Linked DNA regions of Homo sapiens: region 1 is linked to region 2. Evidence: fine-mapped expression QTL. Tissue or cell type: monocytes after Pam3CSK4. Region 2 holds a variant in brackets; the other region holds the start of a gene. All regions are shown on one strand. Distances are between the middles of the regions.

Region 1 (8,105 bases), 110 kb before region 2:
GTATTATATTCTCTGGAAATGAAAATCACAGATCAAAATCCTACATAGGTCATGGCATACATACCTTGATCTCTTAGCCCACCCCAAAAGTGATGTGGCATCTGCTGTGACAGGATAGCATTTGGAATGAGGTGTGTATGAAGGGGATGGGGTGGAATAGAGCCTGGTTCCTCAGTATTCCTCAGTGTCACTAATCTTCATCAAGTTAATAAAGCACCTGAAGGCAGCAAGAGAAAAGACAAAGGGAATGATTGCTGTCCCCAGAAGAGGGCATCTTATCCTTTGCCGTTGTCTCATGTATGATGTAGTATTTTTGAGATAAGTTATGAAGTAGTCTTGAGTTTGGAAAACCAAGAGTTAGGCTGTAAATGTTCACCTTGTGTTTGACCAGTGCCACCTCCCTTAAGCCCAAATTCTCATTCAAAGTTACAAAGACAATTTTCCATTAGGATATCCCTGGAAAAAATAATATTTAGCCTTTATTGAGCTTTTCCCATTTGAAAAACTAAGACTGCCAGGCGCTGAGCTTAAAGCTGCACCCAAGACAGACCAATAATGGTAATAGAGAACAATTGTTAAGTACTACTCTCTCTCTCAATCTGTTTCTCTCTCTCTCTCTCTCTCTCTCTCTCTCTCTCTCTCTCTCTCTCTATATATATATATATATATATATGTTAGGTACTAATCTAATTCTTCTATATAATGATGGTACTCATATTATGCTTGTTTTATAGAGTAGAACAGTGAGATATTCATTGATAAGTATATGAATTTGATCTTTAGCACAGTAAAGAAAATTTTAATGTTGAAATTGGTGCATATCCAAATTTAGGCCCAAGCCCTAGTTTTTAGGCTGTTGTAAATTAACCTAGTTATTGTATTTTCCTGCCTTAATATGCTTCTTATATCTTCAATTTTATAGGATTATTAATAGTTATCCTGATTGACTTTATTTATATTAAGTATAAAGATAAAATTCTTATAGCCCATTCAGATTTTTCTTTACACTTGCAAACTCCAGAGATAGATATTGAAAAATACAAAGGCATATGTCTCATCTATAATTTCTTTCAGCAATATGTCTGCAAGTTGAGCAAAAATAACTGAAAGTGCTCTTTTTGAAAATAATAATTTTCACTTTTCAAAAATGATCCTGTATTTATTTATTTATTTTTTGAGACAGGGTCTCAGTCTGTCACTGAGGCTGGTTCTAAATTCTATTAATCCAATGATTATAGTCCAGCATTTGTCAGGGCACATGATGAACACTAGGTATTTACTGTCCCTGTGTGTCTGTAATGAATTAAAAGAAAAAGTACAGAGAAAGATTATTTAAGATGTTATGGGAAAAGATTTACTAGACTTCACAGAATTATTACTTTAGTCAAGTAACTAAAATAATTCAATCTGACAGATTTGGAAAATTGAAAGTATAAAAATTTGTTTTAAAATTTTTATTGCAGTTTTTCCTGCCACCATTCAGATTGTTTGATCTTGTTATAAATGAGCATTAACTCTGATTTGCAATTCAGGTCACACCATACCTCATCAAAGAATGCAGTTGGGAAAGCAACTGGCCAGGAAGTTTAGGTTTCCCCAGAAGGACTGGAAGGATTTAGAAAACATTTCTTTGGACTTCTTCTGGTTGATGCTCTTCCTACAAGAATCTGTGTTTGGGTGATCCTTGTACAGGAAAATGTCTCTTAGTCCAATTTATTTTATGTAGAACTGTGTAGAGCTAGAGCTTCCCGGAAACTTTCTGAGACCCAAATCATCTGGACTGAAGTCTCTTAGATGCTATTGTTTGATTTTGTGTCCTTAGGTGATTGATATAAGGACAGCAAGAGAAAACCATGTAAGATGAGAAGAAAGCAAAGCTGGCTTTGTGTATGGGCTCAAGTACATTTTACATGCACGTACTTTTTTCCTGTTTTGGTGAGGAAACTCTGTCAAATGACTCTTGACGGGCGCCTCACTTAGTCCCTCCAAGTTTTAGTAGAGAAAATGATAATTTTTAACCAAGACTTACTTGATCTTGACCTAAGATGATGAGAATGAGCAATCCTTCTGAAATCTTATTATTTTAGGTGAAAATAAACATTCGATAATTACATTTTAAGACTTACCAGAGTTTATCCAGGTTTTGTTCAGATCCAGAACTTATACAATGTCGGAGTCTTCTTTTAAGAATACACGATGACAGATACAAAATTAGGTACACAGCTTAATTAACTTCATGATAAATTCTCTTCTGATTATGAGTTACTGCTTTCTTTGGCCAGAATTGTGAAAGAAAAATAAGGCGTGAGGCTAGAGGATGGGGAAAAAAAATCCTTGTCTATCTTGCTTCCCAAGCAGGCCTTCAAGCTAGCTAACTGAAACAGTCTTTTCTCCAGGTCCTAAGGTAAATGGTGGCGGATCTGAAAATGCGTCGGACTTAACCTTGCCCTTCTCCCCAGTTTATTCGCTCAACAAAGAGTTCTAAACAGTCACATCTGCTCTCTAGGCAGAACGGACGCTGCCTCCTAGTATTAGAATACCCAACTCTTTGATATCTCCCTTAGGGATCATCCCTATTCTGGAGAATGTGCAAAATATTGCTCTTCCTTTATATCCTAGCATAGATATATTCTGGCACTTAACATGCATTCTTTTTCTGTTGAATTGAGTTACAAGTCAGTTCTCTAGGACGGTTACCGTCCTGGTGGCTTTGGCGGAATCTTCCGGTGAAAATAGGCTAAGTTGCATGAAATGGGTGTGTCTGGATTTTACCACAAGACCCCTGGTCCTCAAAGCTTCGCAGGCCGAGATACCTCGCCCCTTTCTTCTCTGTCACACGCGTGCGAACACACCCTCCCAACCCACGTCGTAGTAGTCCCCTCCCCCGACCACCCCGCCCCGTTTCCCTTCAACCCCCCTCCTCACGAACCTCCCCTCCCTTCCTACCTCCCTTTCCTTCCCTCCCCGCGGGCCAGCGGCTTTGGCGCTGCCCTGCTGCGCGGCGGGGCGACGCGGCGACACCTATAGGATTGCTTCCGGGCACTCCTCAGCCAGGAGGTGCTGGCCTGGGGCCCGGAGCTCGGCAGGGCCGGGCGGCTCCGCGGCGTTGGCCCAGAGGACGCGCGCCCCCGCCCGGCCGCGTCTCCTTCCCTCCCTCCCTCCTCCCGGCGCCCCGAGCCGAGCTCAGCCCAGGGCGGCGGCTTCGCCTCGCCCGGCGAAGCTTCTCTCCGGTGGCCGCTCCTTCTTTTCCCTCCTCTTTGCGTCATGTCGGGCACTTAATTTTTTTTTTTTTTTAATTCCTTCTTCAGCCCTTTCCACCTTCCATCTCCCTTTTCGCTTCCCAGGTTGATTATTTTCTCTTTTCTCCGGGCTTGCCCATGAGCCTCCTCGGGAGCTACCGGAAAAAGACCAGCAACGATGGTTATGAATCTTTGCAGCTGGTGGACAGTAACGGGGACTTAAGTGCGGGAAGCGGCGGGGTTGGCGGCAAGCAGAGAGTGAACGCCGGGGCAGCGGCGCGGAGTCCCGCCCGACAGCCTCCGGACCGCGCCAGCACCATGGACAGCTCAGGTAGCGCTGCCCGAGGGGAGTGCAGCGCTGAGCCCCGCGCGGCCTCCGGAGCCTCCCAGTCGCCCGGCCCGAGGCCCCCCCGTGGTCCCCCAGCCCCGGTTTGCGAGAGAGCCGGGCTGGAGGCGAAGGCTTCTAATACCACCTGGGTGTCGAGTCTCTAATTTCTCTCATCCAGGGAGCTACGAAACGTTAGATCAGTCCTGAGGCCCAGAGACTGTAGCGAGCTCCTCCTAATCTCTCTAGACTGCTGAATACGGCAGCTGGGGGCGGGGAGGGGGAGGGAAGGAGGAGGGGAGGGGTGGAGAAGAGAGGGGAGCGGGTGGGGCGAAGAACGGCTTGGGAGGAGGGCTGGGAGAGGCAGCTGCTTTCACTGCCCAGCTGGATGAGGGGGAGAGGTGAAGGAGCATGTGCGTTGATTGTTTTTGCAGCATGCAGACGGTATTTATTCCAATTGTTATTCTTGCAATGCTGATGCTATTTGCAATTCTGTAAAGCTCTGCCACATCTTAACTCAGCCGTCTGCTAGGGTTAATGTTACCTTTCTCCTGCAGTTTTTAACCTGGGATCTAGAGCTCTTTTACACAGCTTTTACTGTTTGCACAATGAAATTTATTTCATGTGTTGGCTTTGATCTTGTTTGTCCTTTTGCTTGAGTGTACAGATTTCATAAACCTTTACATGTAGGGACAAGGAAATTCCTCTAAACTTTGTATCGGGGCTTGCAACTGTCTTTTATAAAAGGTTTGGCAAGTTAGAGTCCTCTCTTGGAACTGCTGTTGGCATTTGCGATTTCAATAGCAAAACAGTCATTTAATATATCCATGTTGGACTAGGAGTATTATTATAGCTATTTGCTTACTTCTGCAGGGAACCAGGTTCGGAGAATTGTTTACAGAGATATTTATAATTGAAGTCCTCAGTGGTTGGTTCTACACTGGTAACTTTAATACTGGACAACTGAGGATTCCAGAGGAAAGATTCATATGGGGTCGTTTGAACAGTAATGAAATCAAACTGAATTTAAATGCCCTGCTTTGCAAACAAATGCTTGTTTATTTTAATTGTGTAATGGCTGTCCTTGGGCTATTATTTTCTATTTTCCTTGTCCCAAAGTGGGATGAAATATTGTCCACAGATGCTCAAATGTCCTGGGCTGAAAACAAATTCTACTCATTGAAGCTCTTATTGAAGTTAACCAAGATATTGATGGGACATTCTCTTAGACCATTTTAAATAAAACTAAAATGATCCCCAAGGGATTGATGGTTTCAGGACTGTTTTTTTTTTTTTTTTTTTTTTTTTTTGAGGCGGAGTCTCACTCTGTTGCCCGGGCTGGAGTGCAGGGATGCGAACTCGGCGGACTGCAAACTCCGTTTCCCGGGTTCAAGCGATTCTCCTGCCTCAGCCTCCTGAGTAGCTGGGATTACAGGCACCTGTCACCATGCCCGGCTAATTTTTGTACTTTTAGTAGAGACGGGGTTTTGCCATGTTGGCCGGGCTGGTCTTGAACTCCTGACCTCAGGTGATCTGCCTGCCTCGGCCTCCCAAAGTGCTGGGATTACAGGCATGAGCCACCGCGCCCAGGCAGGACTTTTTTATTGATGTTGTATGTGGTTATTCAATGTATGTTTTTTCAAATCTGTGATATATCAAAGTGTAATCCATCTTTTGACTGGATGTAATCTCCTTTAAATCTTAAAAAGATTCATGTTCTCTGAATGATGCCACCATAATAATGTTTACATGTAGTGAGCATGTAAACAATTGAAATGAAAACAAACATATTCCAAATGAGTGTGAAGGAGCCTCACTTCAGGAAAATGAAAGAAATATGAAATACATATGTTTTCCTTTTTCATAGGGATTATTATTTTAAGAGTTGAAATTGGTTTTTGAAATATGTTACATTGTAGAATAAGTTCAACATACATTTTCTGAGCCCAGCTATGTGCCAAGCACTGTGAGGGAACACAGTAGTGAATGAGATCCTTCTGGCCTCTAGGGGACTCTCAGTGGGGGCAGTAACTATAACACAGAGCAGCCTATGGTAAGTCCTGGATTTTTGAGGATTGTCTTTTTCACTAAATCAGACTTTTTTAATAGGTGGAGAGAAGAATAATGGATTGCTTTAATAATCTGTTGTGATGGGAAAGTGTTTCATTAAGAATATTGTTATCTCTAAAGTGCTATTGCCAGGAGTTGATTCTTAAACTTGATCAAAGTGGTGTTGTGTGAAGAGGCTGCAGGGATTCCTTTTCTCCTCCCCTTATCCATCATTCACTCCTATATTTTATTAGGGGAATATTGTGGCTTTGTTGTAGAAGTACAGGGTATCTTACAATGATTTTGATGCATATTTTCAACTGAGAATGATTTGTTTGGTTTGAATGAAGGATTGGACTCTGAGAGTAGGATTCTTTTACTAGTACAACTATATGTCTTGCCTAATTATAGTTCTTTCTTCTAAGATCCTCAAAGTGTGGCCTGTGCAGTGTAAATATATCCATTTGTTTAGTATATCTAATTAAGTTCATGGATCATTTCTAAAGTGGCAGTAATCTGCCCATTTATTCAACTGATTGTACTGTGACATGCTGGATAGGATCAGTGGTTTATGGGACTTTTGCTCTGATAGAAATATTAATGAGTGGAAAAAATATGTTGACATCTCGCTACATGATTTAAAGCTTAGTCTTAATAATACCTTAAACTTGTAAGACTGTTTATAATAGAACACTTGGACAATTCTCTTATTTCATTTCCCCAGAATTTTATTAAATAGGTTGGGGAAGCAGCATGTGTCTGTGCTTGGAGACTTGGGATCAAACCTCTGCATTATTGTTACTCGCTGAAAAACCTAGTAACCTTTTTCTTTTCTTTTCTAGACAGATAGCTCTGTCACCCAGGCTGGAGTGCAGTGGTGCGATCTCAGCTCATTGCAACCTCCACCTCCCGGGTTCAGACAATTCTTGTGTTTCAGCCCCTCAAGTAGCTGGGATTACAGGCGTGCACCACCACACCCGGCTAATTTTTGTATTTTTAGTAGAGACGGGCTCTTGCCATGTTGGCCAGGCTGGTCTCGGACTCCTGGTCTCAAGTGATCTGCCCGCCTTGACATCCCAAAGTGCTGTGATTACAGGGTCTTGCTCCATTGCCCAGGCTGGAGTGCAGTGGTGTGATCATGGCTCACTGCAGTCTGGACCTCCTGGGCTCAAATGACCCTCCTGCCTCAGCCTCTTGAGTAGCTGGGACTACAGGTATGAACCACCATGCCTGGCTAATTTTTTTTTTTTTTTTCTTTGTAGAGATGGGGTTTTTTGCCATGTTGCCCAGGCTGGTCTCAAACTCCTGGGCTCAAGCGATCTGACCACCTCGGCCTCCCTCCCAAAGTGCTCGGATTACAGACATGAACCACCATGCTTGGCCTGTTCCCATTTATAAAAGTGGAATCATAAGAGCTGTTCTTACCACAGAGCTTTAGTTGAGGCTGAAAACAATATAAAAATACATTTGCAGTTTTTCTTTACTTTGTATCTTGCCCTTTCAATTTATCATATGAAGAAACTTATTCTCAGAGGTGGTAGGAGACCTATCAAAGGTAGAATAGATAATGACAGCCAGACTTAGGTCTTCTGACTCAAAGGTTTGAGTTTTTCCCCATTGAACTAAACTTTTGGGTAGACACAATATCAACTGATTGTTGAAATGGAAACATTTTTATCTACTTTGATTTCCCCCCTGTTTTTAGATAAAAGAGGGGTACATGTTCAGAGGAATGTAATGGCTTTCTAAGTCAACAGCCTCTCAAGTGGTAGATACCAGAGCAGTCTCCTAGCCAGATGTGACTTCCAGAGCTCTCTGCCTTCCCTGGCTCACTTTCTCTTCATTCAAATTATTCTCTAGAAAAGGTTGTCATTTAAAGGTCATCCTGTCATATCTCAAAGGCACTGCACTATCCCAATGCCGAAAACCCCCTATTTCTCTTGTGTGCACCCCACTTTTCAGGGAAAGTAGAACCACAAAAGTAGAACTTTCAATATTGAGCTGCTAAAGTGTTCCAATATTGGGCTTAATTTACCAAGTTCATAATGACAAACTGAAAAAGAGTAGTCCAATTAAAATCTGGAAACAGATATTAATACTTTTTAAAGAATAAGTATAATGATAGGTAAGGATTTCTCTTTTGATTCTCACTTTTTAGGCTTTGTTCTATATATTTAAATATATAGAAATTCACATATATAAATAAACAAAATATTGTATATATTAAAAAAAAAGAATAAGGATAATGAACAATGCTAAAATACCATGTAGTGTGAGTCTGGTTGGAAACAAAAATTACCTTTAACAAATTCTATTTTAGTTAGTGTTTAAACACAGCATCCACATTTTGAACCAGGTTTCAACATTATGAGATACGTGTTTGGATAATTGTATACTTCATGGAAGTATAATAAACATATATGTACTAATAATCCTTTCTTAAGAATATCTGCCCATTGAAGGGTCTTGTAGGTTGGAGGCAAAGTTTATTT
Region 2 (8,105 bases):
TTGGGTTTACAGAGATCTGTCTACATAAAATGGCAAAGAGGTTTGCATTGTAGTTTCTGTAAAGGGAATAGCTATGTAAAAAGAAGTAGTGATTGAGCATTAGGAAGGAAAACCAACATTTACGGATTTCAATTAGTGTTGCATCATTCTTGCATTTAACTTATGCACTGACTTGCAAGCCTACCCCAGTGTAGATATAACATCCTGGCATTTATCTTGTGTGCACTGCCCTAGGTGTTACCATATATATATATATATGTTTTATATATATTTTTTTCTCACTTAATTCCCCCAAAGATTCTGAGACAGGTTTTTGTAAATCTTACCTCAGGAAGCTAAAGCATGGAGAAATTTACCCAGAGCTGGAGCTTGAGGCTATATATTTTTTTTTTTCTGAGGATAGGGAGAGATGATACTGTGTATGGTAAACTTATTAATATTTGTTAATTCAGCCAACATTTTGTGTATACTGTATGCAAGATGCTAATAGATATGCTGGAGAAAATTAAGACAGTGAATGGATTTGATGCCCTGTGAAGCATAAGAGGTTACTGTTATTTCTAATTACTACAAGAATTCTTGCTTCTTGGTGCATAAGATCTACTGTGGGGAATAGTACAAGTGCTGACCATCTGACTTTAGAGCTGAACAGTTTGGGACTTGATCTCAGCTTCCCTATTCACTGGTTACTGGGAGCTTGTTTTCCTATCTGTAAGATAGAGGCAATAAAACCTAGCTTATCATGCGAGACTATTGAATGCAAGGAGAGAATATTAAAATTCATCCCAGTAAGTCCACTGTAGTCCTAGGCAGCATGACAGAGGTCACAGATCTTACAAGTAACATATCAATGGCAAGTTGGGGATAAGGATTTGGTTTTTAGGGTTTTACTTTCTGTTTTTGATGACTCTTATTTTTGAGAAAATGTGGAAGGAGTAAGTAGAAGAACAGTTTTTTTCAGTGCAACATCAGGCAAAAGAAAAGCAGATTTTTTTCAGATGGTTAAAGCCTATGGCAAAATAGCTAACTTTCTCTTTAAGGTGATTGGTAACCTGGAAAGGACAGCTGGCGTGGGCAGAAAACTTGTTCAAGACAAACACTGTCCCAGCATTTTTTAAATTCCAGACATTACCCTGGGGCAAACACCTCAACTTTTTCTTTCATACCACCTTCCAATATCTTACTCCTGAGCCTAGGGTGCTCAAACCAAACTCTGCTTCTGATGTGTTGTCAGTTTTCTCTAAAATCACTTATCTTCTGTGGGACTGGAGTCAGGCTGATGTGGAAGGCTCCCGCAAACCCTATTTAGGCTCTCTGGAGACAGAATGGGTGGTTGGAAATGGAAGGGGGAATGAGGGAAATTTAACCCCATAGAATATCTTCCCCATGAGAGTAGCTTAGCACTACACGAAGAAAGCTAAAAACCACAGACTTCCAGGGCTTGTCTGATACGCAGGTTCCCTTGAGTGCTCTAATAGGTATTAGAAATAATATGATAGGGAAACAAGCTCTTGTAGGGGAGGAAGAATCTTTTTCTCTACCTATCTTAGGTTCTCCGGCTGGGTCCTTGTGCATTAGACTGGCCAAAGACAGATGAACAAAAGTAAAGCAAGTTTATCAACACGTGCGTTGTTCATATAGGTAACATGGGAATACTCAGAGATAAGCAACTCAAAGATTTGGTTAGAACTTGGGTTTATACAGCATATTAGCCAAGGAACAATAAATTTTTAAAGAAATGACAAGATAAAGGATCTTGAGTCTCTAGGGGCAGCAAATTGTCGGAAAACAAATATATGGGAGACTAGTTGCAGATGAAGGCCAAATACTAAGGTTTATCATGTAGATTTTTCTTGTGTTGTCTCCAGGCTGACAGGGGTCTAAAATTGTCTCTGGTGATTAATCTTTGTCTTTCCTGGTAGAGCAGGAAGGAGGTACACCTTCGTAAACTTATATCCTGCTTTTTGGCAAATAGAGGGAGGGCAGAGTGCTTTTCTAGTACCGTGTACCTATTTGCTTCTTCCTAATTGCCTTCAGCTCAAAATAATCCTTAAACCAAAGTGGCATACACTGCCAATGCTCTTGAGTAGATTGAAGGCTCCAAAGTAAAAAGTGCTGTACTGTAGTATTGGATCTCCAAGCATCAGCAGTGAGTCAGGTATTACAATGCTGTTTTCAGTGAGTGTGCCATCCGTCTATGAGGAGAAATGAGAGGAGCTAGAAAAATAAACTGACAGCTAGAAAAATACTCCACTGAATCAACAAATAGACATTTCTTGAAACAGTAACATGCTCAATGTGCAATTTTGAAAAAGTAAACTGAGCAAGGATCATGAAACATGATGGTGGTGAGAATTTATACTTCTCAGGTAGCCAGGGGAAGCTAGGTTTCCACAGATTCCTTTGTCTTTCAGTCCTTTTGAAAACGGAGAAAAAGCAAGAGAAGAGGGACGGCACCATCAGGTAGAGTGGATCTCAGCTAGAATGAGGGGAAGTGGCCCAGAATCCAACCTCCTCCAAAGAGCTGTGTGACAGGCAAGTCCTATCCTTTCTGCACCTCTTTCCTTAAATGTAAGTTGAAGCATTTGGACCAGACTGTTTCAATGATCTTCTAGATTGCTTTTGCCAAAACAGAACTCTCCATTCCTGTAAGATAAGTACACAATGGCTCTCAGAGATCTAAAAACTGGCCTTGGTTACCTGCAAACTTTGAGGCCCCAAGGCACAAAAATAATAGCTTTTTTTTTTTATTTTTTTTTTTAAGGTTCATGAAAGCTTCGGACACAAAAGCTTATATGGTCTTCGTCTCTATAAATAAACCAGGGAGTAAAGAAAAACCCCGCTAGTTTCAGTAAAGCGTTGCTATTAAGCAAAGCAAACCTATGCAAATATCAAGTTCTTAATGAGGAGTGTTTCCTAAGGGGCCTGTCCTCTGGTACCCCGCCTCTCCTCTGCCACAGTCATGTGAAGGCAGACAGGCACACACTCGCACACTAGCACGCACTTGGGAGCTCAGGGAACATAACACTGGTTAGTGAGTCGGTGTCCCTCTCCCATCGATTGCAACTTTTCCCCTCCTTCCCTCTCCTGCCTCTCCCCACTTTCTACATCTCCGTTCTCAGGAAGGCTCAGGGAGGATCCCCCGCTGCGTGCACTGCGTTCTGAGAGGCCGGGGAGAGACTCTGGGCCCGCGGTCGGGGCGGAGCCAAGGTCCCAACCCACATTGAACGGGCTTGAGGATTACTTGGAGGGCTCAGGATCTAGGAGGAGGGCCCAGGGCACTGGGTTGGGGTTACTCTGGGAAAGCTCTGTGGGACCAGGTGGGACCTTAGGGCTGGAGATGGACTCTGCGAGCTGGGGGCGGAGTTCTAGACTGGCAGGAGCGGAGTTCTGGGTGGCGGGGGCGGGGTCGGGACCAGCAGGGACGGCCTCTGAGAGTTGGGGGCGGAATTCTGGGCCGGTGAGGGCTGGGGCGGGACCAGCAGGGGAGGCCTCCGCGAGCTAGGGGAGGAGCTCTGCATTGTCTGGGGCGGGGCTTCGAGTAGCGGTAGCGAGGTCTGGAGCCGCAGGCGCTGCCTCCGCGAGGTAGGGGAGGAGCTCTGTACTGTCAGGGGCGGGGCTCTGAGTAGCGAGGCCGGGTCTGAACTATCAGGCGCGGCCTCTGCGAGCTGGGGGCGGGGTTCTGCACCGGCGGGGGCGGGGTTGTGAGTGGTGGGGGCGGGGTCTGGAGCAGCAGGCGCCGCGTTTGCGAGCTAAGGTCGGAGTTCTGCACCGGCGGGGGCGGGGCTCTGCGTGGCCGGGGCGGGCTCGGGATCCGCGGGGCGACTCCCGGTCTGGCTTGGGCAGGCTGCCCGGGCCGTGGCAGGAAGCCGGAAGCAGCCGCGGCCCCAGTTCGGGAGACATGGCGGGCGTTAAAGGTACATCGCGGTCCCCGGCTCGCTTGTCGTGTGGTGGGGTTGCCACCTCCGTTCCGGTCAAGCCTGGGGCTGCGCCTTCCGCGCGCCGTTGGGGAACGGCCTCACCACCCTTCCCGCCTCTCCGGTTCGGGAGGCGATCGACCGCTCCCTTCGTCCCTTGGGGTGTGGGTGGAGCGGCGTTTCGGGGGAGCCTTGGCCCTTTTTGCAAGGCCGCTGGCCTTCCTGCTCTCCAGTGGCGGCACCAGACCCCTCCCCAGCCTGAGCCCTCGGCGAGAGCGGCGCCCTCCACCTCTCCTGAGTTTTTAAACAAGGTTTCCACTTCTTGACGCCACCCTAACGCCTTTCTTCTGGTTTTCTGCCCCTCCGCAGTTTCCTATTTGCCACAAAGGACCCTTTGTCTCCAGCGTTCTTAGCATTGGGAAACTTAATCCTCTTTTTCCTAATGATTTTTCCAACTGGGCAGAGTTGACCGCGGGCGGGTGTCAATGGAAAGCACCCAGAAAGACGGTGTTTCTCGCAGTCGTGGAGAGTAGATTACGTGTAATTTTAATACTGCTTTCTTCGGTGTTTTCTCTGTTTATGGACAGAGAAGAAACCAGTGTGTGTGTAGTATGTGTTTTTTGCATGGGGCAGTTGGTAAAAACACCGCGTCCCTTATCTGTATGGCTTCAGAGCAATGCGAGACGGAAAAGGTTTTTTGCAAGGCTTCCTGTATTTTGGTAGGAAAACATTCCATTTCTAATCTGTCGAATAGAGTAGCATGACTTGTTTTTATATTGGCTTTTATATCATCCTTGAAATTTGCACCCAAAGATATCCCCAGTTAACATCTGCTATAAACATGTAGATAGTATATATACGAGTACGCCTCTGTTCACTATGAATTTATCCGAGTATGTGAGCTGTTAGCAGCAGACATTTTATCGTTATTTCTGGCTGACTTTTATACTTAATATCAGTTTAGTAAACATGGTTTACTTGGAGAGTGTCGACTGTGTTATATATCCATTTGAAGCCAATGCCGAAAACAGATGAAAAGTAGTGTCTCAGTACTACACATGATCAGAAACTACCAAATCATGAT[C/G]ACGTTTATGTGTGAATGTGTTAGAAAATTGTGATGTAGTGAAAAAAAAGGAAGTCTGAAATGGAAACGGACTAAGGGAAGGAAGCATTTTACAGATTGTTCAACTTTTATTGAGGAACTACTGTATGCCAGAGACTTAGGATACAAAGATAAATGAGAAGTTATTGGTGGGTGACAGAGCTGGAAATAATTATATTACTATGTCAGTGTTTATGTTGGGCTCAGATGCGGTGGGAGAACAGATGGTGGGTTGGATTTTGTCCTCCAAAAAGATGTGTTCAAGCTCTAATTCCCTGGTACCTGTGAATGTGATCTTATTTGGAAGTAGTATCTTTGCAGATATAATCAAATTAAAATGATAACTGGTTTAAGGTGGGCCCTAATCCAATGACTGGTGTCCTTATAAGAAGAGGGGAATTTAGACATAGAGACATACAGGGAGAATACCATGGGAAGACGGAGACAGAAATTGGAGTGATGCAGCTACAAAGTCAGGAGCACCAAAGATTGTTGGCAACCATGCTGGCAACCACTGAGTGTTAGGAAGAGGCAAGGAAGGGTGCTTCCCTACAGCCTTCAGAGGGAGTGTGGTGGCGCTGCTGACACCTTGATTTCAGAAGTCCAGCCTCCAGAACTGTCAGAAGATAAATTTCTGTTGTTCTCAGCCATCCAGTTTGTGGTACTTTGTAACGGCAGCCCTAGGAAGCTGATGCAGGTGGGATTGATTCCCCTGCTCCAGAGAAAGGACTGTTTTCACAGAAGAGGCGATGCTTGAACTGAATCTGAAGGGATCAATGTGGCTTCCCTTGGCAAGGCATGGAGTGAAGGTGGAGTATATCCCAAGTGGGGAGGACAGCACGTGACATGGCGCAGGGCTTATGAAACAACATGCCTTCTTCTCTTCAGGTACTTAAGCTACATTAGTAAGACCAGAACTTAGTGGTGAGGGTTGAAGCTGGCTGGACAGGCAGTTAGGAGTGAGTCAGGCGATGGTGAGCCTCCGTGCCAGAACAACTTGTAGGCTGTGGAAGCAACCGCAAAGGGATGGCAGCGGTGATATATATAGTTGAAAGATCACTGTCTGCTGTGTAGAGGATGGATTGGAAGAGTCACAGAGGCAGGAATAAGAGGTTAAGGGCCTGCACCAGGGCTGTAGCAGAGAGTTTAAGAAGTCTGGGAGATTGAGTCACCTTGACCTACTGATTCATTGGAAGGTGGAATGCAATCATGGTGTCAGTCCTCTAAGATAGGACCTTTAAAGTGTAGGGATAGTGGTTTGGTTTTACACGTGTTACACATGTTGAATTTGAGGTTCTTGTTGGCGGTCAAGGCAGAGAAGTCCAGACTGGAGGTGGAAGTACAGGCCTAGTTCTTTAGGACCTACTCTGGGCTGGAGCATCAGTTGCGGCCGGGCCCTTGTGGTAGTAGGAGCTTTGGGTTGAACATAAGTTTTCAGCAGGAGTGCGTGGAGTGAAAAGAGAGATGGGGTTGGATTTTTGGTCAACTCCAACTTTAAGAGATTCAGAGGATGTGATTCCTGAAAAAAGAGGAAAAAAAAGACCAAAAAGAATCAAACAGAAAGATGGTTGTGAACGTTGAGAAACTGGTATCAGAACAGAAGGAAGAGGTCTGCAGTACCTAGCTTTGACAGGCCTCATGGAGGAGGGGGTACTGCCGATGGTCAGGCACAGAGGAGAGGAGCAAAGCCTGCTGGGAAAAGATCATCTGAATGAAATAGTATGTGGTATTTGCTTTCCATCCACACATGGGCATTTTCCATTAAAGAGTGGAAATGTAAAAAGATATGTTAAAATTGACAGTGTTTCTTTGTCCCTTAACATGTGTATACTTTCAGATGTTTTTTAAAAAGCACTTTGGCACCTTCCTATTAAAGAGTCTCTCTAAATCTTCTCTCAAGTAAAAGGAAGCAATCAAAAATGTTCATTGGCTTAATTAATTAGTTTAATACTAATTATGAGTATTATGGACTTTTTTCAGAAGAAAATTTGGATAAGATAGTCTCCTATGCTTTTGATTTCTACCTTTATCAAAGAACATTGCTAAAATGAGTAGATACCTGAGTCAGTCAGCATTTATTTGGCTACCTCCTTTTGCCAAGCACTTTACATAGATTATCTCATTTAATTCCCATAAGCTCAATAAGGTGGCACCATTATTTCCATTTTACAGGTGAGAAATCAGGTTCAGAGGATTAGCTTCTACCCAAAGTCATAAGACCAGATGGTGGCAGAGTTAAGATTTGACTCATGTTTGTGACTCAGAGCTCAAGATTTTGTAACAACCTTGATACTCTGTTTCTCACTCAGCAGCACAACAAGGGCAAATACGTTCCTACTCCCGCAGAGACTAGTGTCCAATAGATACAGGGAATACATATTTTATTCAGTGCACACTAGTTGGGAATTGTTTCCTACAAAGACATGAAAACAATCTTCAAATACTTGCAGTACTGTGGTTTGGGGAGGCAAAATGATCAAAGGTATATATTACAGGGAGGCAGTTCTGGATATAATTTAAAGAAGGAGGGCTTTCAACATTTAGAAGCTGTTGGAATTAAATGACTTGCCTTGGGAGGTAGTGAGTTTTCCTTCACTGGAGTTATGTGGACCAACTGGCTGCCCTCTGGTGACAAATACAGAGGGAATTCATCCATTGGATAGGGGTTAGGTACTGGAATTACTTGAGACCTTTGTATACTTTATGATTTCAAGGTGGCAGACATGGGTCATTGTCTTAATCAGTTTGGGCTACTATAAGAAATATATTTTAGACTGGGTGGCTTAAACAACAAACATTTAGTTTCCACAGTTCTGAAGACTGGGAAGTCCAAAATTGTGGTGCAGTCAGATCTGGTGTCTGGTGAGAGCCAGCTTCCTGGTTTGCAGGCCTGCTTTCTGCTCTCACATTGGAGAACAGAGGGAGAGAAACACAGAGAGAGTGTGTGCTCTACTTTCTCTCTTCTTATAAGGGCACTCATCCCATCGTGGAGACCCCACCCTCATGACCTCATCTGAACCTAATTATCTCCCAAAGGTCCACCTCCTGATAGCATCTCACGGTGAGAGGGATGGAGCCGGGAAGGT

Evidence for each region. PIP is the estimated chance that this variant, and not a neighbour inherited with it, causes the effect.
Region 1: DNAJC6 starts here. The variant in region 2 is fine-mapped to the expression of DNAJC6 in monocytes after Pam3CSK4 (Quach 2016, PIP 0.90).

The regions. Positions count from the first base shown.
Region 1 is chr1:65,306,369-65,314,473 of GRCh38, forward strand. It overlaps DNAJC6 (DnaJ heat shock protein family (Hsp40) member C6), which reads left to right and starts at 3,175. Exons shown (of 19, transcript NM_001256864.2): 1 at 3,175-3,570. The coding sequence starts at 3,378. It overlaps DNAJC6-AS1 (DNAJC6 antisense RNA 1), which reads right to left and starts at 2,866. Exons shown (of 3, transcript XR_007066155.1): 1 at 2,127-2,866; 2 at 65-217. It overlaps LOC112268227 (a long non-coding RNA gene), which reads left to right and starts at 4,876. Exons shown (of 2, transcript XR_002958317.2): 1 at 4,876-8,105.
Region 2 is chr1:65,416,824-65,424,928 of GRCh38, forward strand. LEPR (leptin receptor) reads left to right here and starts at 3,845. Exons shown (of 20, transcript NM_002303.6): 1 at 3,845-3,917. It overlaps LEPROT (leptin receptor overlapping transcript), which reads left to right and starts at 3,845. Exons shown (of 4, transcript NM_017526.5): 1 at 3,845-3,917. The coding sequence starts at 3,902. RefSeq lists enhancers at 3,159-3,691, 3,692-4,225, 4,299-4,348 and silencers at 3,339-3,408, 3,429-3,928. The variant C/G (reference allele first, on the strand shown) is at 5,002.